Homo sapiens: one gene and its partners. The protein of the gene in region 2 purifies or fractionates together with the protein of the main gene of each other region. This does not show direct contact. Each region holds a gene or a part of one and is shown on either strand. Other genes may lie near its edges.

Region 1 (7,022 bases), on a different chromosome or scaffold from region 2:
TCTCATTCTTTCATTACATTATCTTACGATATAATCATCTAGTGTCTCTATGTGGCAGGTCCTAGCAAGAATAATTAAGAACTCCCCTCAAGTTGCCTGCTGTTTGGTTGAGGAAACAGATAGTTGCAATGGAGTACAACACACGCTCTAACCAAGCCTGCAAGAAGTACTGAGGAGGAGCGCAGGAAGGCTTTGGAATAGAATATCCATTCTATGCCAAACAGTTAACCCCAAGAGTTCTTATCCTGCTACATTATGAAAGAAAGACTGTCACAATCTTGGCAAAAATCCCAAGAATCAGATAGGTTCTCAGAGACTCCCCAGATGCACACCTGGGTAAGAATTTGAGCCCAGTTCATAAACTGAAGCAGTTACTCATTCTATTAACCACAAGCTTCTATAAAGAAGAGGGAGAGAATTTCAGAAAAATGTAAGGGCAAGTGCAAAGGCCAGGAATGGAGTGAGCTTGGGATGTCTCCTTAATTTGGTGCAACCAGAGCAAAAAGTGTAAGTTGAAGATGATCCCAAGGCTAAGAAGTTCAGAGGGTAGGAATGAAGGCTAGATGGATCTAAATTAACAAGGGCAGAGACTCCAGGACTTCTCAGTGCCTCCCCAGACCTCTTCCTGGTTACATCCAAGCTTCTCTCTATGGGTCAGAGTAGAGACTGGATTGCTGTCCTCCAGGAAGGGAAAGGTTTGCAGTCAGCCCAAGGCCAGAGCAATCCAGTGCACCTCAGATTTCAGCATGAGATCTAAGTGCAGCCTCATCATCAAGTACCAGCCATGTGATAAGCACACACTCACATGACAACATGAGGGTCATGCAGCAGCCATGAGTGTAACTGTCATGAAACTAACACTGTTCTCTGATACCAGGCTCCAGATGAATCTCCCACTTAGGGTGGAATCAAAATAGGTACCTATATCTGCTTTCCTGCCACACTCTCCCATTCCATCCCAAGTGGCAGACCACAACCACAGCCCCAGTTGGCATAGCACTTTCAAGAAGCCAAATCCTGGTAAGAGCTGGATAAGGCTCAAGCCTATAATCCCAGCACTTTGGGAGGGCAAGGCAGGAGAATCACTTGATCCCAGGTGTTTGAGACTAGCCTGGGCAACATAGTGAGACCTGTCTCTACAAAAAATAAAAATAATTAGCCAGGCATATAGTCTCAGTTACTAGGGGGACTGAGGTGGGAGGAACCACTTGAGCCCGAGAGGATCACACCACTGCACTCCAGCCTGGGCAACAGAAGGAAACCCTGTCTCAAAACAAACAAACAAACAAACAAAAAAACAAAAAAACAAATAAATCCTGCTAAGGTCAGAGGGAGTTGATGTAGGACTCAGCCCTACAGGGTCATTTTGCATTCCCTTACCAACATTTGATAAGAATGGCAATTCAAGGCAATGCCATAGGAGTAAAGCGGAGAAGAGAGAAAACAAGAAGGAGGGGAACTTGGGAGAAGGAGACAAGATCATCTAGGATAACTCAAGCAACTTCTGCGTCATGCCTGGAAGAATATTTCTCCTAGCAGGTTTATATTCTTATTCTCATCTTAATGAGACAGGGAAGTAAAATAACTTTCTCAGGATCACACAGCAAAGGAAGCAGAATTTGAAACATGGTCTATGACTGAGCTTCCTACGTGGCAGCATCCTGCCTCCCAGAGGAGAGGCCCCTCCCTGGTGGGGAGCTACTGAGGGATTGAAGGAGCTCCCTAGAAACTCCAGGCCCCATCACCTAGATTAGGAGAAAGAAACTGCAAGCTCATTTACAATGAGACATATTTCACTTCAGTGCCCCAAACCGGAAGGGACATAGCACAGTGAGGGCTGGGAAGGGTGACTGCAGCTTTAGCACTGTCACTGATCAGGTATGTGGGCCTCCATTTATGTATCTGTAAAATGAAAAGAGAATACTAATTTCCACTGCAGAGTTGGTCTAAAGATTAAATGAATTTTTATTGCACATTTAAAACCTTGTATTCAATTTTCATTATTTGTTGAGTGCCTACTACATGTCAGGCACTAGAGACACAGGCTACTAAAACAATGGAGATACAGAGGCAAAGACAAGCAAGTTCCCTGCTCTATAGAAGCCTACATCCTAATGGGAAAGTCAGTAAGTAATTAAATGTGAAAACACATCTGAAACCAGTACGCACTATATATAAACAATTAAAACAGGGATTTGTAATAGTGACTGGGTAGCGACCATTCAGAGGAGGTGATCTTGTTTTCTTGTTTCTGATGGTTTTTTTTTTTTTCTTTTGAGTCAGGGTCTTGCTCTGTTACCCAGGCTGGAGTGTAGTGGCATGATCAGGGCTCCCTGCAGCCTTGACCCCCCAGACTCAAGCAATCTTCCTGCCTCAGCCTCCTGAGTAGCTGGGACTACAGGCACATGCCACCATGCCCAGTTAACTTTTTTATATATCTATTGTAGAGATAGGGTTGCCCTATATTGCCCATGCTGGTCTCAGACTCTTGGGCTCAATCGATCCTCCCACCTCAGCCTCCCGAAGATTACAGGTACAAGCCACCAGGCCTGGCTGTGATCTTGTATAAGTTAAAATTATTCAGGCTCAGGATCGCCTGGCAATACAAAACAAGGAAGTCTGCAATGAACTAGGATACCTTAAGAGGAAATGGGGCCTAGGAAAAAGAACCTTGAGCTTGGGGGCAGATCAGCTGAGTTCTAACTCTGGCCTTGGCAATGACTTGCTGTGTGACCAGGGACAAGTCAGACCCTCTCAAGACCTTCCACGATCTTTGGAGCTACAGCATACTGTAATTTGCTTTCCTGAGCCTTGTCCCTCCCAAAACAATACTGTCCCACAGCATTTCCTTCCCCATGTCCGGGATCCCTTCAGCAGAAGATATTAGAATAAGGAATCTATTTTCCTGTGGGGCCAGTGGTTTGGCAAATAGTGCAAAAACATTCCAGGCAGCCAGATTATGGAATGAGGAATACTCAGGGAAGCACGTCCTGGGTAGCAGAACTGCTGGATGCTCCCTCAACTACACCAGGCCTACCACCACTAGAACCCCAAAGGGGCTGCCCTAACATCCAACAGCTTCATAAAGTCATCATTACCCATCTAACACCCTGACAGAGGGAAACCATTAATAAAGGCCCAGCGCAGTGGCTCATGCCTGTAATCCCACTACTTTGGGAGGCCAAGGCGGGTGGATCACCTGAGGTCAGGAGTTCGAGACTAGCTTGGCCAACATGACGAAACCCTGTCTCTACTAAAATACAAAAAAATTAGCCAGGTGTAGTGACGTGCACCTGTAATCCCAGCTACTCGGGAGGCTGAGACAGGAGAAGCACCTGAACCCAGGAGGCAGACAGAGGTTGCAGTGAGCCGAGATTGCACCACTGCACTCCAGCCTGGGCAAGAGCAAGACTCCGTCTCAAAATAATAATAATAATAATAATAATAGCCTTATAATTATGTGTTTAAAAACACAGAGTGAAAGAAAATTCCAAAAGGCATTCCCTATCTCTAAAATAAACCAAATTTGGTGGCATTAAACACCTCCAGTAACAGTGCTCCTGAACCATCTCCAATTATTTGGGAAACACCACTGAGGCCAATTCTGCCCCCTATTCTAGGTTCTGCAGACTGAGGTCTTCTTAAGTTTTTTAAAGCAGGCTTACAGGCTTGAAATGTAATCTCCTTTGTACTTGTATTCTCCCATTTTATCCTCACAATTCAGACATAAGTTGGCAAATGAAAAAAAATATTTTTAAAAATCCTCACAACTAATTTGTAGGTTGAGAATTATTATTGTCATTTGGAAGATAAGGAAAAAGACTCAGAAAGGGAGAGACTTGTCTAAGGTGACCAAGCAAGTCGGTGGCAGTTAGGATAAGAATAATCTCCTGGTGTCCAGACCAGGGCCCTTTCCATGAGACTCCATTCTATCATAATCGCCTGTATATCTTCCAACAGAATCTTATCTCTCATGCAATCAAAGCACTGTAGCAAATTAGCCCAAATATACCCAGTTTTTTACCCACTTAATGAGTGCTTATAAACTCATTAAGTTCAATTCTTACAAGGCCTGATTCATCCATGTATTTTTTTCAAACTTTAAAAACCAAACGCTTAAGGGTAGGTGTGATCTCCAGCAGCATATTTCCCTTCCCACCCTGGTCCTGACTCCTTACCTGTCCAAGCGGTGTGGGAGAGATAAACCTGAGTGATGAGCCGGTGCCGCCCTGGGCCAGGATTCCGGAAGTCTGCAGGCTTGGGGTGAATCATCTGAGCCTGGCCATCTGGATATAAGACCTAAAGGGTGACAGAAATGAGAAAAAGGCAGAAGCGAGAGGAGCATTTAACAAAATGGATGATGACATCTGTTGTGAACCTCAAAACACAAGAAGAAACATGACACCAACTTTACTAAGATTGAGCCTTGGGGGTAGGTCAACACTGTAGACATCTCTATTCCCCTAATCCAGCATGAAGCAGTGTTCAGTAAACATTTCCTGAATTCATGGTGAATAAGTAATATGAACAGAGTGTCTCTATTAAGCGCAAAGACAGGTAAGAATATTAATTCTTATTATGAAAAGTGTTCTCAGGCACCTTCACCAGAAGAGCACTCCCTCCCTGGCTCTGAATCATACCATGGCCCAGCATCCATCACCAACCACCAGTATTTGGAGTTATTTTGTAATTGCATTCTTTCCACTACATTGCAAGCAGCTAGGAAGTCATTTATCTCTCTCTCTACGGAGAGACGGCTCAATGAAGAGTCCACTCAAATCACTGGCCAGTTCTTTAAGGCTCATAAACTGCAACAGAGTTCTTTCCTCAGCATCCTGGGGGACCTCCCAGCTCCCTGTGTAGACAGCCTACTATACTGCAGCGCACAAAGGAACTAGAGGAACAAATGAAGCTTATCCTAGGACTAGGACCTGCTCTATGTAAATATACTTATGAAGGCAGAGTAGGGAACCACACAGGTCTTCCAATGTTGAAACTGTGGTCAATGTTGAAACTGCGGAAGGCATGTCTCACCCACTTGCCCTATAATCCTTCATCTCTCCTCAGGTCATGGGGCCTCCCCCTGATTCTACACTTCTTTCTTTCTTTTTTTTTCTTTAAAACAGGGTCTTACTCTGCCACCCAGGCTGGAGTGCAGTGGCACGATCATAACTCACTGAAGCCTCAAACTCCTGGGCGCAAGTGATCTTCCTGCCTCAGCCTCCTGAGGAGTGGGGATTACAGGCACGTGCCACCACGCCAGGTAATTTTCTTTTTAAATTTTTTTGTAGAGACAAGATCTTGCTATGTTGCCCAGGCTAGTCTCCAACTCTTGACCTCAAGTGATCCTCCTGCCTCAGACTCCCATAGTGTTGGAATTACTGGCATGAGCAATTGTGCCCAGCCTACCCTTATTTCTTTTTCTTTTTCTTTTTTCTTTTCTTGAGATAGTCTCACTCTGTCACACAAGCTGAACTGCAGTGGCATGATCTCGGCTCACTGCAACCTCCGCCTCCCGGGTTAAAGTGATTCTCCTGCCTCAGCCTCCCAAGTAGCTGGGATTACAGGCGCCCACCGTCATGCCCGGCTAATTTTGTATCTTTAGTAGAGATGGGGTTTCACCATGTTGGCCAGGTTGGTCTCGAACTCCTGACCTCAGGTGATCTTCCTACTTCAGCCTCCCAAAGTGTTGGGATTACAGGCGTGAGCCACCACACCTGGCCTACCCTTATTTCTTAAAGCTGCTACTCCCCACTCTAGTTCTAGGCTCCAAGCTCCCAAACCTACTATAGGAAAAAAATGCAGGTGTCTCAGTTTCCTGATCCTTATTATCTTTAAAGACAAGTGCTTGGGCTTCATTTTTTTTTAGAAAATGAAGGGGAGGGCCGGGCACAGTGGCTCACACCTGTAATCCCAGCACTTTGGGAGGCTGAGCCAGGTGGATTACTTGAGGTCAGGAGTTCAAGACCAGTCTGGTCAACATGATGAAACCCCTTCTCTACTAAAAATACAAAAATTAGCTGGGTATGGTGGCGTGTGCCTGTAGTCCCAGCTACTTGGGAGGCTGAAGCAGGAGAATCACTTGAACCTGGGAGGCAGAGGTTGCAGTGAGCTGAGATCGCTGCCACTGCACTCCAGCCTGGGTGACAGAGTGAGATTCTGTCTCAAAAAAAAGAAAGAAAGAAAGAAAAAGAAGGGCAGAGGGGGGCTGAAACAGCAATGATCATGGGAAAAACAAATGAACAGGGGCCATAATTTCTGTGTTCAGCAGGTGCAGTGGCTCATGCCTATAATCCCAGCATTTTGCGGGGCTGAGGCGGGAGGATTGCTTGAAGACAGGAGTTTAAGACGAGACTGGGCAAAAAAGTAAGACCCCCCAATCTCCACACAAAAAAAATTAAAATTAGCCAGGTGTAGTGGTGTGTATCTCTAGTTCCAGCTACTCAGGAGGCTGAGGCAGGAGGATCCCTTGGACACAGAAGTTTGAGGTCACAGTGAGCTGACCATGCCACTGCACTCCAGCCCAGGCAACAGACAGAGACCTTGTCTCAAAAAAAAGAAAAAAAAAATTCCCAGCATTCTCAGCAAAACTGTCCTTGGTGAAAGGCCTTCACTCCTCTGTGAAATGGTTGCTGGAAGCCTTCTTTCATTTGTCTACTCCAAAAGTGGAGCTTAGAAACCTGTGGCCCAAGTAGGTCAGAGGAAGGAAATGGCCAGTATGAATGATCATCAGGTAGAATACAGTAACCTAGATTAGGCTTACAAGAGTTAATAATCGCGAAGGCCCGCGGCGGGTGTTGATGCCATGTGATTTCTGCCCAGTGCTCTGAATGTCAAAGTGAAGAAATTCAATGAAGCACGGGTAAACGGCGGGAGTAACTATGACTCTCTTAAGGTAGCCAAATGCCTTGTCATCTAATTAGTGACGCACATGAATGGATGAACGAGATTCCCACTGTCCCTACCTACTATCCAGCGAAACCACAGCCAAGGGAATGGGCTTGGCGGAATCAGCAGGGAAA
Region 2 (7,797 bases):
TTTTTTTGGCCAGTGTTTGACTTCATATCTCTGAATAACATGCTCATATTGCTATTGTTATTCTTAAAAATCTAGCTCTAATTCACTCCCTCACCTCTATTCACCCAAGTCCTGCACATACATATATGAGTATTTCCTGTCTTCATATTCCACAACTTATTATTAATAAATAAATTATTTATAGACAATGTTGGTGGTGAGAGCAAGATTCAGTGTTTATGTTACTGGTATATCATGGCTGAGCCATATAATATATAATTATATAATGATTGATTTTCCTTTTGATATTTGCTTGGTTGTTTTTTAAACTTTTTTCTTTCTATTAAAATTTAAGTTTCATGTCTGTTTCTTTATTACTATATCCCCCAGGACCTAGAACAGTGTCAGAAACATCAAAAGTGCATTATATGCATTTATTCAATACCTATTATATGCCTGGTCTTACGTCTAGGGTCTTGTAAATATCTTCATCATGGCTTCTTTCAAACTACCAACACAATGTCACTAAACACAGAGTTAGGAATAAATTCACACAATCAGCTCTTAGAATTTAAGTTGTCTCTAGTACACCATTGGTTGAAATCCAGTCACCTAAATTTCTGTCTATTCCCTTCCTCTTCCCTGCTACAGAACTCCTAGGGATCCCCAGAACATAGGTTGAAAATCCATGGGTGAATATGACACCTTTAGAGTATAGATGGGAACACTGAGGCCTAGAGAGGTGAATGAACCCGGGTCTCCTAATGCCCATTCCCATGCTCTTTCCACTGCATTATACAACCAATAGTCTAATTAGTCTCTCAGTTTTCTGCTTCCAATTTCCCCATCCTATTCCATTGATATTCTGCAAACAGATTTGGTCCTAAGAAGCTGCTTTCAACCGCAGCAGGCCCCCGTTTCACCATAGAAGTTTCTACGGCTCCCATAGAAGTCTTTAAGATCAAGTCTAGGCATTTTGGCCTTATTTTCAATACCCTCCACAATCTGGCTTAGCTTTTTCTTCTCCTGCCTTTCTAAATATACACCAAGCTAAAGTCCAACTGACTCTCCCTGTTCATCAGAATCATTCTTGCCTTTGATTGCCTCTGGACTTTGGCTCTTTCTCTACCACTTACCTGGAATTTTTCCCCATCCTCTTTGCCTATCCAATGCTAACCAAATCTCACATCCCAGCCCACACTCCAGCTCCTCTAGAAAGCTTTCCTAAACCACTGAAGTCCATAGGGATTGCTACCACTTCTCAACTCCCATTGTACAAAACAGTTTCTGCCATTCCTTTGTCCCTTAATATGTAAGGCCTGTTATTGTTAGTTTTCTTCTAAACCCTCATGTTTATCTTTCTATGTATTTTTAGGTTGATGTTTATATGTGTATTTCTCTGTATATGTATGTTATATCTGTGTTTTTATTTAAGTGTTCATATGTTTATATGCATGTATTATCTACCTATGTCCTGCTTAAGTGTATGAATCTGTGTTTCATTGCTTGTTTTCTCATGTCTATGTGCAGGTCTATGTGTATTTGTGTGTTTGCATGCATATTTTGTGTGTCTGTGCTTACATGTCTCTGTGTGTATATTTTGTGTGTTGTACATCAATGTGCTCACGTTTGTGCTTAAGGCCATATTATATACATATGTATAGCTATACACAAATGTGTGACCATATGTATCTGTGCATTTATGTTTATTTGTAGTACTTATAGGGGTGTGTGTGTGTGTGTGTGTGTGTGTGTGTGTGTGTGTCCTTGAGCAGGGCCTGTGTGGATTTACTCTTTGTACCACTGCTTCCCTCCAACTCAGTAAGCCCAAGGTGCACATACACACAGGAGGGTCTCAGATAATGTTTACACATTGATAAATTTCTCCAACCTGACCTTTCAACCTTTGTCTAGAAAGGTGGGCTATGGGGGTAGAAATAGACACAGAGCCACAGTGACCTCTGAATATTGGGCCTCAAAGGGTGTGAGTCATTTTCTCTGCTGCTCACCCACATTCTGTGAACTCCTACCACATGCACAGTATCATCTCATGAAGCACTGAGCTTGAAAATAAGAAAAACGTGGACCCCTTGAATTAAAGTAACTATCCATCTCTCTCCTCTTCAACCACTTCATCTTTTCTGGCTCATGCCCTGGTGCATGGAGTATCAAAGGTACAATTTTTTGAAACACCAACTTGGATGGTAAATTACACTTCTGTCATTTATCAGTTGTGTGACCATGGGCAGGTTCCACGGTACCTCCAGACCTCAGTTCTCTCAATAAGGAAAGGTTATTCATAATGTCTTCCTTGTGAGGTAAGGCCTAGGGATAATGTGCACAGCACAGAGCAGGAGTTCTACAAATGGTAGTTTTAGTATCACTTTACCTGGGAAGCCTTCCCACGCTACTATTTCCTTCACTAAATACTGCCCAAACCACAAGTTTTACAGCTCAGTTAATAATTCACCTTGTATTAGTGGTTCATATGTGTTTGTCTTTCCTTTACACTAAAATCTCACTTATACAGGGACCATACCTAACATTTCTTTTCTCTCCCTCACAACATCCAGAAAAGACCTGGAACTATTGTAGAAGTGGTCATTAAAGGTGTGAATGAAGCAGAATAGTGTGTTACTTAACAGTATCATTTCTGGAGGCATATAGCTAGGAGTTTGAATCTTGTCTAGGCACCCTCTATAAAAGTAAGTGATTTCACCATTCTGGGTTTTAGACACATTTGTAAAATGGGGATATATTGAATTCATTCATTCAACAAATATGTGGGCTCTACAATGAAAAAGAAAAGTAGTGTAAGGGAGTATAGAGTGGTAGGGAGAGATACAAGAGTATGTGCAATAATACCCACCTGAGGGGTTGTAAGAACCAAGGGAAATAACCCATGCAAGGTGCTTAATTCAGTGACTGGAAGAGTAAAAGATTTTAAATAGCAACTATCATTATATAGTTGTTATTGTATGTATAGTATAGTTTGATTTTTATAAATCTGAAAAGATACAAGCATCAAGTATAATTATGTTCATGTTACAATTAGGGAAGCTGAGGTTCAGAGAGATTTGACTTGTTCAAGATCTCAGAATGAAGTAGACACAGAGCCAGGCTTATCTCCAGGTTTCTGACTTCTCATCCAATTCTTTTACTAATCAAGAGGGCTACTGAGCCTACTGCAAGACTGGAAGTCTTTCCCAGCCTTGAAGTAATGTTGTGCATACTCCCCAGGACATTTATTTATCTTCAGATCCAGGAGGTCCTAATAAAATGCAAGAGGTAGCACAAAACACACAATCACCTGGCCAGGCAGAAATTTACATCTGTCCAGTGGGCTTTTTAGCGGGGAAGGGGAGGGGTGTGTGTGTGTGTATGTGTGTGCGTGTGTGTGTGTGTGTGTGTGTGTGTGTCTGTGCGGTGGTGGTGGTGTAGTGGTGATAGGGTGTTGGTTGAAAAATATCAAAGGAGGGTTCTGTGAAGTTCAGGGTTTCCTGAGTGAGGACCCGGTGGGAAAAAATGGCTGAAATTTCCAGTGAGATGGAATGAGTGCAGTACTCAAAAAACAAGGAACAACCAGCCAAGGGGGATTGGGCCCTAGAGGCAGAGGTGATTGATAGAATTCCATGTAATAATGTGTCCTGAAATGCTGGAATGTCTCCTTAGCCCGTGCACAGCTCCAAATCATCTGCATGCAGCCACCCCTTGGCAAGTATGTTTCTTTATATTCCCACTCCCCATCTCTGCACAAACTCCTCCCTCCCCTGACCAAGTCCTTTCCTATCCCTCCAATCAAAGAGTAAACTAAGCTTAGCTGTTACTTACAGTGCAGTATGAATTTTTGGGATGTATTTGTGCTTTTGAAAGTGCTTATTGTTTCAAAGCTTAGTAGACAAAGCGCAGTGCCAAACCTAGTTAGACTGCTGATGAAATTACAGTCACTCTGGGGCCTGTGAAGAGGAGCAATTTCTGGAGCAGTTGAGCTTTGCTAGGAGGCATAATATTACTCTCTTGTAGGTCAAGGGCCTGTACCAATTGGAAGTCAATGAAAAATTCAACCTAATACAGCATACCACTAATGGGCTGCTGCACTGGAGGCTAGGCTTAAATTTCCCTTAAAAGAAGTAAAAAATAAATTCCTTATGAAAAAGCATGGAGAACATTAATGAAAATGAATTCTCCCTTACCATCAGAGAGGTGGAGCCATTGTAGAAAGTGATTCAAAGAGCTTCCCCAATATGAGATATGAGGCATATTCACCCATAACAGCCTTATCCATTGGCTTGTCAATTATTCAAGCTTTGATGTGTAGAAAGCCCTTTAATACACTAAACTCTTGTACTCTTAAGCCCAAAAGCACCCCGGGCCCAACACCCTGTCCAGTTGCATAGGCTGCACAGGCAAGGGTTAACAGTACAACTAATGAAAATTGGGTAGGTCAGCAAAGTTGATCTCTTCTCCCTGGGCTCACCACAAAGGAAAACACCGCCATACTGGAGTGGGAAGACTCATCCCAAAGGTCGCCCCCACAACCTCTGAATCTTGTGGAGGAGACTCAAAATAAATACAGCCTAGGAGATCAAAGACCAGAAAGCCCCATTGGCTCCAAGGAAAGTCAAGTCAATACCCTAGCAGGGGGAAGAATTGCTTCACTCATCCTGGAACCTCCAACCCCAAGGAGGTGGGGGAAGGGGGGCACCCCACATGACCTGTACTGAAATAGGGAAGGAAGGGGAATGTGTGATGGGACTAGGAGTTTGAGTGAGAGATATAGGGAAGGAAGGGAAGTAAGCAGTCACAGACGCTGGCGGCCACCAGAAGTTTGAGCCTCTTTGGTAGCAGGAGGCTGGAAGAAAGGACAGAAGTAGCTCTGGCTGTGATGGGGATCTTACTGGGCCTGCTACTCCTGGGGCACCTAACAGTGGACACTTATGGTAAGGCAGAAAGGGGGGCCTGGCTGCCATTGCTGGCTTAGGCAAAAGGCTAGAGGGTTGGTGTTTAATGTCTACTATGGAAAGCCTATTCCTACTGGGCAGGTGAGTCTTCTCAGCCAAACTCTGCAGGCTCTCTCAGCCTTGAGCAAAACGGATGGATGTAGTTGAAGGCTGCTGAAGAAGCCAGAAGGCAAGTTTGGGCAGAAATTGAAAAAGGATTTTTCTCTTGGAAAACATCTGCATTATTTTCTAGGGCTTGTATCTCAGGGGCATCAAGAAGGTTCCCAATGACATCCGAATCTTTCCTCCATCTGCTGTCTCTCATCTAAAATTCTACAATTGGACTTAACCACTCTGCTTCCAAGCTTTGGTCTCTGTTAAAATATACAGCCCCCGAAGAAGGAGTGTTTTCTAAGAGTTGGATAGGACTATAGAAGTAACCTATACCACCCTTCATTGTCATGAATAAGTGCTCAGAAACATCCAGTAGTGATTGAGATTTCACTGTTCACTACCTCCCCAGACCATCTAGTCCATCCAGGAGCAGCTCCAACTGTTAGAAAGTTCTTATTTGTGTTGAACTAAATCCAGTTCCCTCTGACTTCCATCCAAAAACCCCAGCTTTGCTTCTTGGGGCTACACAGAACATAGATGCTTCCTTGCCCTGTGATAGCCCTTCAAAGCCCTGAGGACAAGTACTATGTCTCCTTGACTCTTCTCTCCTCCAAGCTGAACAGCCCCAGCTTTTTCAACTGGTCTTCATAGGACTTGGTTTCTTACCCATTCCTGGGATAACTCACTTCCCTATAGACATGGCTCAATTTGTCTGGGCTATTTATGGGCTGGATACAAATCCCAAAGGAGGATGGACTATTCCATAGTGGCATTATTTCCTTGGAGCTTGGGAAGCTCTATCCTCATCTACACTCCTGAGAAGTGAGATGGATTTTCAGGAAACTCAACCTGGGTAACAGCTAAGTGAGATCCAATATAGGGTAAAGGGGGATTTTGCTGCTTCCCTATCATCCCTAGAGAAAAAGGCTGGATAGGTGTTAGCTTGGTGTCACTTGTTAGGTCAGAAAGAATCCAGCTTTCCGTAGCTGACTCTGATTAGGTTACCCTATCCTGGGGCTCTGTGACCCATCACACTCTGGAACCTCAGAGTTAGAAAAGACTCTGAATTAAGTCAACCAAGAGAAAAAATAATTTGCCCCCAAGCCAAAGAGCATTAGTGGCAGAGTTAATGCTCCTGAAAAAACATTTTTCTTTCTATAACTACCACATTTCCATTCTCTAGCAGGTTTTATAATGTATCTCTCTACCTTCTCCAAGTCTGTTGGTTTGAGCTAGGGCTTAAGCCTGGGGCTTGAGGGAGCATTTTAGAAATGTTAAATTTAAATCCTTTGTTTGTGTGTGTGTATGTGTGTGTGCATTCATGTGTGTGTGTGTGTGTGTGTGTGTGAGAGAGAGAGAGAGCACTCATGTGTCTTGTTCCTTCCCCAGCCTATGAGCTTTTCCAGACCTGGAAGCAGGCCTTCCATTTGTACACAGGATCTTATACTATAGACCTCAGGCTCAGGTTATGCTGAGCTGCAAATAATACCTTCCCTCTCCCTGGACCTCATTGTTCCTAGCCCATCTGTACAGTGAGGAGGTTGACTTGACTGGTCTTAAAGGGGTTTCTCAGCTGGACAACTCTGTGGGACTGCAGCTTCACTGCTAAAAACCCTGTAGCGGCCAGAGTAAGCTGCTAGCCTCTTCCTGTGGGGCTAAGAGATATGTCAAGATAATCAAAATTTAAAAAATTTCTAATATTCACATTTTATATACATTTTAAACATTTCAGAAACATTTTATAAACATCTATTATATAAGTTAATCCTCCATCCAGGAGGCATTCCAGGAAAGGGAGAGAAGCCAGTCATGTGGGGGAATGGGATAGAGATATGGAAAATGTCAACCTCTTTGTGATGATGGGAGGAAGGGGATTCAGAAAGAGACCTAGAATGGGTCTTATAAAGGAGCACACACCTAGTAAATTCAACCTTTCTTTTCTTCAGTGCCATTACACAGGCATCAGACATTTGCTTTTATAAGGCTGGGTCTCAGGACCACATTAAGCTCAATACTGTATATATACTTATCAGCAATAAGTATATATACTTATCAGCAATAAGTATATATACGTATCAGTAATAAGTTTATATACTTAGTAATAAGTATATATACTTATCAGTAATAAGTATAATATAATATAATGTTATATATTATATATAAGTAATTATCAGTAATAATTATATAATTATTATATATTATATATAAGTAATTATCAGTAAAGTGGAAGTAATAATAAAGGAAGTAATATAATATAATAAGTATATAAATATATAATATAATATAATATATTATGAATATATTATATTATATTATTATTATATAATATATATTATATATTGTATTATATAATTATTATATATATTATATTATTATATAATTATATTATATATTATATTATTATATGATATATATTATATATTAATATTATTACATAATATATATTATATATTATATTATATTATTATATAATATATATTATATATTATATTATATTATTATATAATATATATTATATATTATATTATTATATAATATATATTATATATTATATTATATTATTATATAATATATATTATATATTATATTATATTATTATATAATATATATTATATATTATATTATATTATTATATATTATATATTATATATTATATTATATTATTATATAATATATATTATATATTATATTATATTATTATATAATATTTTATATTATATTATATTATTATATAATATATATTATATGATATATTATATTATTA
Region 3 (7,901 bases), on a different chromosome or scaffold from region 2:
TACAAGGTGAATAATAAAAATATTATAAAACAAACACAGTCACAAATAGCCACATCAGACTGATGGGACGCCACACCGTGCACAAGCATCATGTGTTCTTAGAACAAGGCCCTGCGCAAGCATCTTCCTGTCACACACATCTTCCCGTCACCACAGACCACCAGCCCTTCAAATGTAAACGTGTGCAGGAGTAGCCTGGGGGCCTTGCTAAATAAAATGCGGCCTCTGATTCAGTAGCCTTGGACAGGACCAGAGGTTCTGCCTGTTCTGATGAGTTCCCAAGTGAGGCGGACAGTGCCAGTCCACAGACTCACACTTTGAGATACAACACCTGGGCCGTTGTGTCCAAATCCACTTGATAACCTGGAGCACTTATTAAATATCCAAATTGCCAGGACTTTCCTCTGGAAATCTGGATTCAGTATGTTTTGGTTGGAGCCTTGGGCATTTGGGAAAACTAGAATTTCTTTCTCTCTCTTTAGACAAAAGTCAACTACTGTTGAGGCATGGGCTTAATAAATGTTGACTAAAATATCCAACTCAACGACCAATCCTGTACAGTTTTCAAACGGTGTTAGTAACTTATTTGCAAATAATAAGGAACAACTTATTCCTCATCACACTGAGGAGCCGTGTGACCCATCGTGCTGGATCAGAGATGAACACCAAGCACGCTCCTAACACCAATGTCACCCTGAACGTCAACAGGAAACATTGGCCGTGGAGAAGTTGTTTAAACCTCTTGAAGCATCTTGCCAACGACGAGACTTCAATAATCCTCCTTTATTCACAAAAAATTTAAAACCAGTGGCAACAACGGCACATTACTTAATAAAGCAACTAAGTTAGAAGTGCAAGACACTGATTTATATGCTGTTGATAGGTCTGGAGAGACAGGACCATTCACTAGGCTGAAAAGGTGGTGGCCATCTGGTATCTTCCTAAAAAAGTTTATCAGGGTCCTGGCCAGGCGCGGTGGCTCACGCCTGTAATCCCAGCACTTTGGGCCGGCTGAGGTGGGAGGATCACGAGGTCAGGAGTTTGAGACCAGCTTGACGAATATGGTGTAACCCTGTCTCTACTTAAAATACAAAAATGACCCCAGCGTGGTGATGCACACCTGTAGTCCCAGCTACTCAGGAGGCTGAGGCAGAAGATTCACTTGAACCCGGGAGGTGGAGGTTGCAGTGAGCCGAGATTGTGCCACTGGACTCCAGCCTGGGCAACAAAGTGAGACTCTGTCTCAAAAAAAAAAATAATAATAATAATAGAAAATAAAAAATAAAATAAATAAATAAATAAATAAATAAATAAATAAAAAGTTTATCAGGGTCCTAATCCTTTCCCAGAAGGCAAACTAAAGCCTGGAGCAAGACAAGGTCTTCTCCAAGGCCACACAACTGTCAGTGACAGAGGATTCAGTTCAAAGTCCTGTCTTTTCAGGCCTGTGCCTACAAACCAACCGTTAATCTGAGTATTTCAACCTGGCCAAAGGCAACACAAAACACCCAACCCTATATTTTTGGGAAAGAAAAAAACGGGGGCAACTGAGCAGACAGACAGAGGCAAGTACAATGTGGCCTCCTAGATAAACCTCAATGCGCTTATTTCTTTTGGCACAGACACTTCCTTCTTAATTTTGAAGGAAAGTCACATCACATTACATTCTATCTGTCCCTAAGAATTAAACCCTGTTAGGTGAGCCAAACTTAAACACATTAAATTCTACAAATAGGCCAGGCACAGTGGCTCACGCCTGTAATCCCAGCACTTTGGGAGGCCAAGGCGGGCGGATCACCTGAGGTCGGGAGTTCGAGACCAGCCTGACCAACATGAGAAACCCCCGTCTCTATTAAAAATACAAAATTAGCCTGGCGTGGTGGGCCATGCTTGTAATCCCAGCTACTCGGGAGGCTGAGGGAGGAGAATAGCTTGAACCCAGGAGGCGGAGGTTGCGGTGAGCCGAGATCGCCCCATTGCACTCCAGCCTGGGCAACAAGAGCGAAACTCCGTCTCAAAAAAATAAACAAACAAATAAATTCTACAAATAGCCATTAGAATTATTAGGATAGAAAACGATGATGGGTACTAACAGATTCACTCAGAAGGAGTGGGCAGCTAATTCACATTATGTGTAGCTCTGGCTTGGAGAAGACACAGGGCTTGGAGGAGGCAAGACTGTTCAGCATGAATTAAAATTGATTTATGAGCTTGCTGTAGCACTTGGAATAGAAAAAAGAATCTTTTCAGCGCCTTTGACCCCTCTCTCAAATTACACCAGGGTGCAACTGAGGAACAACAGTGCCGACCACCCACTTTTCTCGACCCTTGGGGAAAATAACTTTTTTTTGGAAGGGAGAGTCAGTAGATGAGGCTGCATTTTCCACCAGGGAACACGAACTGCTGCGGGAAGATCCCAGCTTCTGGCTAAAGGAGCCGCAGGCCAGCTCGCCATCCAGTCCCCAGAGCCCGGGCTTTAGGTAAAGCGTGGAGATGCAAATCAGTTTCGCCGCCAAGGACCGGCCAGGCGCGTCTCCTCCCGGGCCTCGCAAGGAACAGGTCAGGGAGACGACTTCCAACTTTCTTGGCCGGACCCTAAACGTTCACCGCCCCTGCCCAGCCGCCCACTCCTGGGCAGCCAGCAAGTCTCCATTCACAAGCGGCTCCATGCTGCCCAGCACTGGCGCCCCTGAGGCGCGGAGCCCCGCAGCCAAATGACAGGACTTGGGGGCAAACAAGGACAAAAGTTCCCACCAGGTGGGCACTGCAGGAAGGAGGCCGACAACCCCGAGATTCTCCGAGTCCCGCGGCACGTGCGCTGCGACGCTGGCCGCTTCCCCCGCCGCTCGGGAAGGTCACGCCGCCCGCACACCGAGGCCCGCCCCGCGCCCCGCTCCCCGCTCCCTCTGCCTGGCGCGCTCCCCGCAGCTGCAGGCGCCAGACCGGGCTGCGCTCACCGCCGCGCCGGCGTGGCCGCGTCCAGCTCAGGCTCCGCCGCCCGCTCTCGGCTCCGGGTCGCCGGCTGGGGCGGCCACTTAACACCCACGTCGGCAACGGCCGGCCCTTCGCCCCTCCCTTCGCGCAGGCATCCCGGACTGCGGCCCCGCGAAGCTCAGGAGCGCCCCTGCGGCTGGCGGGCGGCCTGCCCAGGGCCGTGCCCGAGCCGAGACCGGGAGCCGCCACCGCCCACCGGCCCTGCCACCGCCCCCAGCACGGGAAGCGGAAGTGGGCGTGGGGCCGCGGCGCGCACAGCCAGCCCGCGACCCGGCGTGGTGCTGCCGCCGACCCTGGTGAAGGTGGAGAGCGGGGCCTGCGCCTCCGGAGACTTTCCCACCTCTGGGATCCCCGAGACCCTCTCTGAGGCCGGACCCTTGTTAGCCCGCTGGGCTGGGACTGGGGGCTGGGGGCTGGTAATGTCAGTGGTTGGGAGGACTTACTTTTTAGCTACTTTGACCTTGTTGGGAGGCTAAGGCCTTATTTATAAATTATATTTGAGTACAAAATTATACTCGGGATCCAAGGCCCTAATAGGAAATACAACTAAGTATGAAAATACAGGAATTAGCCGGGCATGGTGGCTCACGCCTGTAATCCCAGCACTGTGGGAGGCCGAGGTAGGCGGATCACCTGAGGTCAGGAGTCCAAGACCAGCCTGGCCAACATGGTGAAACCCCGTGTACTAAAATTACAAAAATTTATCCAGCGTGGTGGTGCGTGTCTGTAACCCCAGCTACTAGGGAGGCTGAGGCAGGAGAATCGCTTGAATCTGGGAGGTGAAGGTTGCAGTGAGCCAAGATTGCATCACTACACTCCAGCCTGGGCTACACAGCGAGACTCCGTTTCATAAAAACAAACAAACAACGACAAAAAAAAAAAGGTGTGGTGACACATGCCTCTATTCTTAGCTATTTGGGAGGCCAAGGCGGGAGGATCGCTTGAGGCCAGGAATTGGAGGCCGCAGTGAGCTATGATGGCACTGTTGCACTCCAGCCTGGATGACAGAGACCTCATCTCTCTCTCTCTCTCTCTCTCACCCACACACACACACACACACACACACACACACCCTCCACACAGTGTAATTTTATTTTACAACTTTAAGCCTTGTTTAGATGTGCTGTTGGATTATTATTTTTTTCTTTTTTTTTCTTTTTTTTTTTGAGACAGAGTCTCACTCTGTCACCCGAGCTGGAGTGCAATGGTGCAATCTCAGCTCACTGCAACCTCCCCCTCCTGGGTTCAAGCGATTCTCCTGCCTTAGCTTCCCAAGTAGCTGGGATTACAGGCATGCGCCACCACACCCAGCTAATTTTGTATTTTTTAGTAGAGACAGGGTTTCACCACCTTGGCCGGGCTGGTCTCGAACTCCTGACCTCAGGTGATCTGCCTGCCTCGGCCTCTCAAAGTGCTGGGATTACACGTGTGAGCCACCACGTCTGGATGTGCTATTGGATAATTACCTACGTTATTTAAGTGATTTAATTGGTGTTAGTGCTTAACATGAATGCACACTTGAGTAGACCTCCCAGGCTGTAGTAGATGCTATGATGGGATCAGAGTGCCTGGTACATGGACACTCATCAGAATCAGCACTTTAGAACTTGGGCTTCTGGACTGTAATCGAGTTACAAAAACAAGCCAGGGAGTTGGGATGACTTGTCCAAAGTGATGGGGAACATAACTAACTGAAAGCAGATCCAGCAGCTGAAACTACAGTTACAGCAGCTTAAAGGGGTTGGCAATGTCACCTGGTCCAATAGCTTTTGCAGCTTCAGAAAATGAGACCCAAAGGAACCCTGATTAAGGACAGACTTGGCTGGGTGTGGTGGCTCATGCCTGTAATCCCAACATGTTGGGAGGCTGAGGCAGGAGGATTGCTTGAGCCCAGGAGTTCGAGTTGAACCTGGGCAACACAGTGATGTAACTGCCCAATGGGTTCTTCTCGCCCGCTGCCTCAACTGAGCCAATTTATCAAGATGGGGGAATTGCAATAGAGAAACAGTTTAATTCACGCAGAACCAGCTGTGCAGGAGACCAGAGTTTTATTATTACTCAAATCAATCTCCCCAAGAATTCGGGGTTTGGAGTTTTTAGGGATAATTTGGTGGGTAGGGGGCCAGTGAGTGGGAGTACTGATTGGTCATGTTGGAGATGAAATCATAGGGAGTCTAAACTGTCCTCTTACGCTGAGTCGGTTCCTGGGTGGGGGCCACAAAACCAGATGAGGCAGTTTATCAATCTGGGTAGTGCCAGCTGATCAATCCATCAAGTACAGGCTCTGCAAAAATATCTCAATCTTATCTGTGATCTTAGGTTTTACAATAGTGATGTCATCCTGAGGAGCTATTTGGGGAGGTTTAGAATCTTGCAGTCTCCAGCTGCATGACTCCTAAACCATAATTTGTAAACTTGTGGCTAATTTGTTAGTCCTACAAGGCGGCCTAGTCCCCAGGCAGGAAGGGGGTTTGTTTTGGGAAAGGGCTGTTGTCGTCTTTGTTTCAACGCTAAACTATAATCTAAGCTCCTCCCAGAGTTAGTTGGGCCTACACCCAGAACAAGGACAGTTTGGAGGTTAGAAGCAAGATAGAGTCAGTTAGGTCAGATCTCTTTGACCATCATAATTTTCTTGGTTATAATTTTTGCAATGACAGTATCAGTGAGCCCCTGTCTTTACTAAAAATCAAAACAAAAAAAAATTTTTTTAAACCTGGTGTGGTGGCGCATGCCTGTAGTCCCAGCTACTGGGGAAGCTGTGGCAAGAGCTCTTGAGCTGTGTTCATGCCACTGCAGTCCAGCCTGGGCGACTGAGCAAGACCCTGTCAAAAAAAAAAAAAAAGGAAAGACCCTGTTATAGATTAGAAAGAGCACTGGACTTGGGGCCAGGATGTTTGTGTAAATGTCCCTGTGTGACCTTTAGTGAGTCACTTAGCCTTTTGTAAACCCCAGCCACAGCATGACTGCATCACTGGTTCCTTTGAACCCCCTGTGTTCCATCAGCCTGCTGGAACAGTCCACCATGCAGGGCGCTTGGTACTCTCCTCGAGCCATTGGGCCCTAGCCTAGTGCTTTCTCTTGTCTTCCTTGAGCCCCTTCCTCTCCTATCCTGACAAGGGCTGTTCCAAACTCTCATCACTCCCAAGCCTTCCACATTTCTCCTCTCCATGCCTCCCAATTTGTTCTATAAGAAACTATCGGAATTTTGCTCAGATTTTTAATCCATAGTCTACAAAGTTACCTTTTTTGGGTTTTTTGCACAAACTCTCATTTATTTGTCTTCTGTCCAACTTAGTTGCTGTGTCCCCTTGCCTAGCCCAATGGCTGGTGAGAATGAGGTTGGAGAAGAAACCAAGGTGTTGGGAGGCCACATTACACAGGCGCTAAGAGAAAAGCAGGGACTCAGCAAAGTTCTGTCCAACTCCAAAGGTCAGGCGCTCAGCTGGTACACTGTGCAGTGCTCCCTCCCAGAGGCTTTTTTTCTTTCTTTCTTTGAGACGGAGTCTTGCTCTGTCGCCTAGGCTGGAGAGCAATGGCGCGATCTCGGCTCACTGCAACCTCTGCCTCCCGGGTTCAAGCAATTATCCTGCCTCAGCCTCCCGAGTAGCTGGGATTGCAGGCGCCCGCCACCATGCCTGGCTAATTTTTTTGTATTTTTAGTAGAGATGGCGTTTCACCATGTTTGCCAGGCTAGTCTTGAACTCCTGACCTCAAGCGATCCGCCTGCCTCGGCCTCCCAAAGTGCTGGGATTACAGGCATGAGCCACTGAGCCCAGCCGAGGCTTCTTATTAAAAGCAAGAGGTGCCAGATGTGGTGGCTCACGCCTGTAATCCCAGTGCTTTGGGAGGCTGAGGCGGGTGGATCACAAGGTCAGGAGTTCAAGACCAGCCTGGTCAATATGGTGAAACCCCGTCTCCACTAAAAATTCAAAAATTTAGCCATGCATGGTGGCAGGTGCCTGTAATCCCAGCTACTTGGGAGGTTGAGGCAGAGAATTGCTTGAACCCAGAAGGTGGAGGTTGCAGTGAGCCGAGATTGGGCCACTGCACTCTGGCCTGGGTGACAGAGCGAGACTCTGTCTCAAAAAAAAGGCAAAAGGGCTGCAGGAACTGGAAGTTCTTTCTTCTGAAATACATCTCCTTCTATAATATTTTATAAAAGTCACCTCCACAGCTTAAAATCCCCCACAACAGTGGCTCTTTCTGCTATCTTTATTTTAGGAAGAAAGAAATAAATATATAGATGTTAAAAATGCTTCCTATCTCTCAGATGCTCAGAGAAGTGATTGTAAAATCATCTGATTGGCACTAAATTAAGAAAGTGTCCATGCAAACTTTGTTCTGAGTGTAATTTCCTAGGAATCCTGGCCGGGTGTGGTGGCTCATGCCTGTAATCCTAGCATCTTTGGAGGCTAATGGGGGTGGATCACCTGAGGTCAGGAGTTTGAGACCAGCGTGACCAACATGGTAAAACCCTGTCTCTACTAAAAATACAGAAATTAGCCGGGCTTGGTGGCACGTGCCTGTAATCCCAGCTACTCGGGAGGCTGAGGCAGGAGAATCGCTTGAACCTGGGAGGCGGAGGTTGCAGTGAGCCAAGATTGTGCGACTGCACTCCAGCCTGGGTGGCAGAGTGAGACTCCATCTCAAAAAAAAAAAAATTCCTAGGAATCCTATGGCCTCTTGAGAACAACATTTTAGAGACATGGATCACTGCTGTCTATAGAGGTAGCTCAATTCAATGGTATTTCAGACCTAGGTTCCAAACAGGAAACACGTCAACACACTGACCTCTCTGCTCCAGGTAACCGTTTGCTGTACTTGGAATTGCACGATTCAGAGATTTCAAAGCAGCTGGCTTTGTGATGGGTGGCAAGTGTGACGCAGGTCAGAGGTGAGAGGACAGA
Region 4 (7,262 bases), on a different chromosome or scaffold from region 2:
TTTTACTGAACCTTTTCTATGTTTAAATACACAAATACTTACCATTGTGTTACAGTTGCCTACGGTATTCAATACAGTAATATGCTACACAGGTTTATAGCCTAGGAAAAATATATAGCTTAGGTGTGTAGTAGTTACACTATCTAGCTTTGTGTTTATACTCTGTGATGTTTGCACAATGATAAAATCACCTAATGATGCATTTCTCAAAATGTTATCTCCATTTATAAGCAATTGGATGACTATATACGCATTTCTAAAACTCACCTGTCTGAAAAACCTGATGTCTCTGAGAAGGTTGAGGTACCACTTTTTCCCTTTCCCTTCATCACTTCCTTTCTTCCACTTTATAAAAGAAAGGCATTCCCGTGCCCCAATCTTAAACCTTGCACTGATCCAAAGAATAAAAACTTTTGGGTATCAAATATTTTTAAATAAAAACAAATAAACTGGTGGAACCTTAACTAAGAGATAATTAAATAATTCCTTCAATAAAGGGACCATAAACACCCAAATTCATCTCTTTAAAAAGATGGACTTCCAATAAAATTTTACTTTTGGTTAATAATTATCAAAATTGGTAATCTATATTGTTTTAATCAATCATATAGTACTAATAATTGAATTGAAAATTCAATCCATAAAGAAGTTTTAATACTTGGAGGCTTATGACAGAAAACAGCAATTTAAACACATTTTTTGACACAGAAGGGTATGACAGAGTGATCAGTAAAAGAGCTTTTCAAGCATAAAATTAAATTACATTAGGAGAAATTCTGTAGGAGAAATGAAATGGAAATAAATTCAAGAGGAAAAAGCAGCTATATGGAATGTCCAGCAGATAAAGAGGAGTTTGTATTTTTCTAAAAAATGGATGATGTGATTATCAAATCACTATAGTATTTAAATTATATTAGATACACTTAAAGGAGTGATATAGCATTTTTATTTTTAAAATGTCAATATTCCCAATATGGTCAGAAATTATATTCTTTGCATTTGTTTAAGTTTATAATAAAAACTTTTAGATATCAATTTAAAAATACACAGAAGAGTAATCAGATTTCCATTTTAGAAGGATCATTAGCAGCAATGTGGAGAATAAACCGAAGACAGACAAACTAGGAGGCCATCTGGGAGACTTCTTACAATCCAGACAAGAAGGCATTAGGGCCCAACCTAGGGAAATGGAATAGTAAAAATAGAACACATCCAGCATACAGTAAAGATGCATAATCATAACAGATAAAGAAGAGAGGATGGATTCAAGAGATTTTAACGAAATGTTTTGAATGTGTAACTGTGAGGAAGATGAAGAAGTCTTTAATTTACTCAGGTTTCTGGCAGGTTTAAATAATGAGGCCACTCTCTAAAATTGGTAATATTGCAGGTTTGGGGGAAAAGCTGAGTTCAGTTTTGGGTATTTGAGTTTGAGATGCTTGTGGGATTGACCGTCTAGGTGCTAATCAACCCACACAGCTTTTATAGAAATGAATCTCAGGTACAGGAAGTCTTCCAATAACATAATTTTGTACAATGTCATTTCGTTATACTGTTCATGAGGAAAAAATCAATTCCTGTTTGAGGCCATTGGCCGTGTGGAGTTTGTACATGCTCTTCCCATGTTCATAGGGGTTTTCTCCAGGTACTCTGGTTTCCTCCCACATGCCAAAGATGTGTATGTTAGGTTCACTGGTGTGTCTACATGGTCCCAGTAGACAATGAGTGTGTGTGAGTGCTTCCTGTGATGAAATAGTGTCTGGTCTAGAGCTGGTTTCCACCTTGTACCATGAGCTGCCAGGATAGGCTCCGGGCACCCACAGCCCTGAGCTGGAATAAGTGTGTCAGAAAATGAATGAATACAAATCATTGTAAAATAAAAATGGGTAAACTTTACAATAATCATACAAATGAATGACAATAAACGATTTGGTATGAAAGGGCTCAGTGAGCTGCCATATTTGTGATTGTTTTTGACCTGGGTGGTGGTAGGAGGTGCTCCTTCCAATTTTCACTTTGCAAACATTTATTCCTTGATTTAGCCCACCACCACTATGACCGAGGTCACTCGCTGATACACCAAAACTTGGATAATTATCTCACCTGTTTTTATTAATCTTTCTCAAATATATGTATAGCACACAATTATTTCAACATTTAATATTAAAAGTACTTTGAGTCTTTCTTTAGAAGTTCGGTGGTGTTTGTGTGACCAAAATATGCCACTGAAACAATTCTTATTTATATCAAGTAGCCTATGGTAGAGTTAGTTTAGTTATACACTGTTTTCCCTAAAGTCACAGTTTCCAAGAGCCTATCTAGACATTAAGTGAGGACTTACTATATAAGTAACAGAAGGTTGTATGTATGTAGAAGTGGAAGAAGCCCTGGTTGTGGCTGTGATCATCCAAAGGAGTAGGTAGAAGAAGAAAAGGGGTCAAGGATGGAACACCAACACTGAAGAGGAAAGGAGATGATTCTATAGATTTCATATAATAACGAATGAATTTCAGTGACTATTATGTAACAACGAATGAGTACTTGAGAATAGGAAAGAGGGAAGGGAAAGGTAAACACATGGAGAATTAGGAGAAAATCTGTCACAAAATAGAGGCTGAACAGCTCCCCCAGAACACACATATAGTAAGGTGTGGAAGTATAATAAAACCCAGGCAGTTTAACTTCAAAGACAGAGTTCTTAGCCACTGTGCGTACTGTCACTCTTAAACAGAGGACAAAGAAGTTACTCAAACAAGGTCCCAGGAGAGACAGAAAGAGGAGCATTTAAGTATAATTACAAAGATTATCTAAGAGGGAAATAAATAAGGATGGTATAAAGTTTCAGACTGCTAGCAGGAAGTTGAGGGACTACTTCTCAGTCTCTTTCTCAATATTATTTTCCTAGACTCATCGCTGAATATAAAAATTCCCTTCTCAGGTTCGTTTTCCACATAGTTTCAAGGGGAAAAAGAACCTCTGGCTATAGTCGACCTTCACATGAGTGAGATTTTATTTCTGTCCAAGGTTAATCTGGGTAGTTAGCTCCCTTATCTGAAACTTACCAAAAAGTTTAAGTTGATGACATCCAAATCTAACCTCAAATCTCTTATTGCCAATGTTTTAGCGTAAGAAAATAAGTTAGATTTCTACGTATTAACATGGGAATACGTTCAACTTATACCATTAAAGTGAAAAAACTGGACGTTTTGATCCGATTTCTGAAAATAATAGGTATTACCTCTAGCGTCGAAAACATCTGGAATAATATACTTCAATCTATTAACAGGGGTCATCTCTGGCGGATGTGGTTACAGGCATCTTTCACTCTATAATTTAAATTTTTATGACCGTGTAGTAAACGGGGAAAATAAGATTTTGTTCCTGTTAGAAGCAGATATCCTGTCTTCTCTGCTTGACTGAGTTCCTTAACAGCGGGTCATATTCACTGGTATATACCTATAGCACATAGCTGGGCTCACTAAGATTCTACAACAAACGAATGAATTAATCAATGATTAGGAGTTTTGAGCATCTCAAATAACCGTTGAAGGAAACATATACACACAAATGCATGCATTTTCCCGTTAACGCGCAATGGAGATGTAAGCTGTAAGGGGCCTTGGAAGGCAGTTATTTCGACGTCCCTGCCTACGTTACGATTTTAAAAGCCCGATTACGATTACAAGTGTCCCGAGGGGATGAAAGTACAGCTTTCTTTAGTAGTCCCTGCTAACACTAATTTACCCTTGCCATGGGAGAACTCAGAAGCTGAGTTCAGAATTGGAGTCGGCCCTGGTCGGAGGTGGCGTGTGTTTCGGGGGAAATGAATTCCGCCAGCTCCGAGCAGCGGTTGGGACCGTTACTCACCATTTCTCAGGACGCCAAGCTGGGGCTGGCGGAGCACCGAATTGAAGAGCATCAGGGTCGGAGGAAAAGCCTCAGCTGAGAGAAAAGTCGTAGAAATGCCTCCAAGTTCAGCAGAAATCGCAGCTTGCGCCTCTCACAACACAAATCGTTATCGCCTCCAACTCCCGCCACTGTAAGCCCCGGCCGCCAAACTCCGCGCCAAACTGACGTCACGCTCTCTGATTGGCTTCCGAGCGACGTCCGGGCGCCTCAGAGTCATTTCCCCCTTCGGATCCCCGCCTCCTTTTCTCCCAGCCGCGGGAACCTGGAGTCCAAGAGCTCCTTGAGCGCCTGCGCAGGGGGTAGCAGAGGCGCGGACAAACCGCGGGGTGACCAGGGCGCATGCGTAACAGGGCTTGACAGCGCGCGGAAGAAAAACCAGCAAGAAGGCGGCGGGGGAAGATGGCGGTCCTGGGGTAGAGTTTGCAAGCTTTCTGACTAGGCTAGTCGAGTAACTATTCGGGTCATGGCGTCAAACTCAACTAAGTCTTTCCTGGCAGATGCCGGCTATGGCGAACAGGAACTGGATGCCAACTCTGCCCTTATGGAATTGGACAAAGGTATTCGAAAGAGAGGGCTGAATGGGTGAAACAGGCGTGGGGGGAAGTGGCGCCACCAGGTGGTGGTTGCTTTGGGAGAAGACGGATAGGCGCATGCGCATGTCTTCGCTGGGCGGGGAGCGCCTGTGCTTTTGCTGGGGCGTGGGCTTTGACCCCTTCGGGAGGTTGCGGGAAATTTGCAGGATTGTGTGACTGGCCTTATACCGGCTAAACAAGTAGCGAGCTCTAGTGAGAGGCCCGTTTTGACCACTTGAGGGAGCAGTCCCCCGATTTTCTAAGCAGTGACAGTGGCTAGTTTCTAAGAGACACTGCAAAGAAATTGTGAAATTGGTTTTCAGTCTGTTCAGTTGAGACCAGGTCTTCATGAAATGTGCTGAATAGTAATCTTGCACCGACTTGACAGCGATTCATTTGATTTCCATAGCTCTGTTACCTGCGGGTTACAAGGCAGGCTAAACCTGGCCAAGACCATAAAAAAGCAAGGGCCCTGCTCATTCTCTGCGGACAAGTTCCAGGAGTTCTGTTGCCGTACAGGGAGCAGCTTGGTGTAGAGGGAGCTTTGGGGTTACACTGAGTTAAGTTTCAATGCCGCTGATTTTATGATTAACTTCATCTAGCCTCGGCTTGTCGTCTGCAAAGTGGGTACAGTACCATTGAGCCGGCAGAATTGTATTAAGTGACTTAATGGTATGCAAAAGAAGCATTTAGTAAATGCTGAAGAGATATACCTCCCTTCTTAGATGTGGATATGGGAGGCAAGGTCGGAAATTTGTTAGTAAAGAACTCGACTAGTAATATGAAACCTTTATTTCATATTGAGGATTTTTATTGTACGGGAAACATTTCGGCAGCTGGTATACAATTAAATCTTGATTAATCGTAGCCAATATATAATGTTGGAGAACTGGACTAGAACTCAGAAGGGTTTGAGCCACTTCCCAGTTTTCTGAGTTGGACATGTCTATTAACTTTTTTGGGACTCTTTTTCTGTTTATTTTTTAAACTGTGAATATTTTTAGTGGGTTAGTCTAAATAAGAGTTTCTCAGGCTCTTAAAAAAGCTTTTACCTTATTTTGATAAACACAAAAATTTCACAGCCCCCTAATGGGATATTCCTTTGGTTGAGTCTCAGTATCTTTAGTGCACCCCCATCAACCAAGAAAATTATGTTGAACTTTTCCTTCTCTTACCAAATCTTTAGGGGTTTTCTCCTCTGAAAAAAAAAAGTATAATACTAAATGTGTTTTTCTCTTTTTTTTTGGAGACAGAGTGTTGCTCTGTTGCCCAGGCTAGAGTGCAGTGGCGCCATCTCGGCTCACTGCAACCTCCGCCTCCCGAGTTCAAACGGTTCTCCTGCCTCAGCCTCCCGAGTAGCTGGAATTACAGGCGCCCGCCACCACGCCCGGCTAATTTTTGTATTTTTAGTATAGACGGGGTTTCACCATGTTGGCCAGGCTGGTCTCCAACTCCTGACCTCAGGTGATCCGTCCGCCTCGGCCTTCCAAAGTGCTGGGATTTACAGGCATGAGCCACCGCGCCCGGCCTTAAATGTGTTTTTCAAACACTTTCCTCCTCATTCTGATACATTTCTTTCTTATTCCTCAGTGAAAGTTACAGGTCAGGATAATATCTAATATCCCTACGAGTTCTAAGGACATTTTCTACCATTCTGGTGCAGCTGAGCTTGTCTCATGCTGACAATAGGATAGTGGTTGTGGAACAGGGATAAAGATGGGGCACTGAAGAGGAGTCTAGAATGGTTTAATTCCTCAAATTTTGCAGTTGTAAGAAAAAAACCACAATTTTTCCTTTTTAAAGAAGAGTTGAAATGAAAATATTTTATATCTATAGGAAAGAAATCAGGTGTCAATCTTAGACACAGAGTAAGTGATCATTTGCACTCCTCCCAGCAATGCCTGGCGTGAGTGTTTTACAGGTGAATCTCAGGCTCAGAAAGATGACTTGTTCTTTTTCATCTCATCTGTAGTAACTTTTAAAGCTGTTAGGAAATTAAGTTATAGAAATAGCCAGTTTCGTGTAGAATATAGTTGAGTATTTTAAATATTGAGTCATTTCATCTTGTACCTGTTAAAGTATTTCTGTTTTGTGAGCTAAAGGTCAGAAGGCTACAAGTTCCAACTCTTTTTTTCGTTCCCAAACTCCAAGGAATACTGTTTCTGAAATATCTCCCCCACCTCAGCATACACACTCAGACACATGACTTATTTGATCGGGCTTTGTACTAGGAACATGGCAGTTAATGAGACAAAACTCCTGCCCCTATAGAGCTTACATTCTAGACAGCAGATGCAGACACTCCGCAAATATAGCAAACGTGACAGTTAGTGATACATATTATAAAGGAAAATGAAGCAATGAAAGGGACTGGAGAAAACTGATCTGGGGCTGGAGTTGATTTCTTATTTTATGAAGTATAGGCAAGAAAGACCTCCTCAATCAAGTGGAAGAACAGCAAGTACAAAGGCCCTGAGGTAGAAGCCTCCTTTGCATGCAGTTATCTGGAGCAAAGTAATAGGCAATGAGTATAGAAAGATAACCAGAGTCAGTCGGGCGTGGTGGTTCACGCCTGTAATCCCCGCACTTTGGGAAGCTGAGGCGGGCGGATCACGAAGTCAGGAGATCGAGACCATCCTGGCTAACATGGTGAAACCCTGTCTCTACTAAACAAAATACAAAAAATTAGCCAGGCGTGGTGGTGGGCACCTGTAGTTCCAGCTACTTGGGAGGCTGAGGCAGGAGAATGGCGTGAACCTGGGAGGCGGGGCTTCCAGTGAG

What was found.
Region 1: the proteins of VSIG4 (region 2) and INTS4 purify together in Homo sapiens (affinity purification with mass spectrometry; 4 studies listed by BioGRID and IntAct, with this or other methods). This does not show direct contact.
Region 3: the proteins of VSIG4 (region 2) and SLC25A15 purify together in Homo sapiens (affinity purification with mass spectrometry; 4 studies listed by BioGRID and IntAct, with this or other methods). This does not show direct contact.
Region 4: the proteins of VSIG4 (region 2) and INTS7 purify together in Homo sapiens (affinity purification with mass spectrometry; 4 studies listed by BioGRID and IntAct, with this or other methods). This does not show direct contact.

What each region holds. Positions count from the first base shown.
Region 1 is NC_000011.10:77,879,654-77,886,675, forward strand, and holds part of INTS4 (integrator complex subunit 4), read right to left. Parts: intron 5,264-7,022; exon of another isoform or gene 5,127-5,263; intron 4,300-5,126; coding exon 4,179-4,299; intron 1-4,178. UniProt on the Homo sapiens protein: Component of the integrator complex, a multiprotein complex that terminates RNA polymerase II (Pol II) transcription in the promoter-proximal region of genes.
Region 2 is NC_000023.11:66,037,066-66,044,862, reverse strand, and holds the start of VSIG4 (V-set and immunoglobulin domain-containing protein 4 isoform 1 precursor), read left to right. Parts: upstream 1-4,782; 5' UTR 4,783-4,864; coding exon 4,865-4,919; intron 4,920-7,797. UniProt on the Homo sapiens protein: Phagocytic receptor, strong negative regulator of T-cell proliferation and IL2 production. Potent inhibitor of the alternative complement pathway convertases.
Region 3 is NC_000013.11:40,784,720-40,792,620, reverse strand, and holds the start of SLC25A15 (mitochondrial ornithine transporter 1), read right to left. Parts: upstream 3,011-7,901; 5' UTR 2,958-3,010; intron 1-2,957.
Region 4 is NC_000001.11:212,032,548-212,039,809, reverse strand, and holds the start of INTS7 (integrator complex subunit 7), read left to right. Parts: upstream 1-4,252; 5' UTR 4,253-4,372; coding exon 4,373-4,466; intron 4,467-7,262. Other genes in the region: DTL (denticleless protein homolog), read right to left, coding at 3,868-3,919. UniProt on the Homo sapiens protein: Component of the integrator complex, a multiprotein complex that terminates RNA polymerase II (Pol II) transcription in the promoter-proximal region of genes.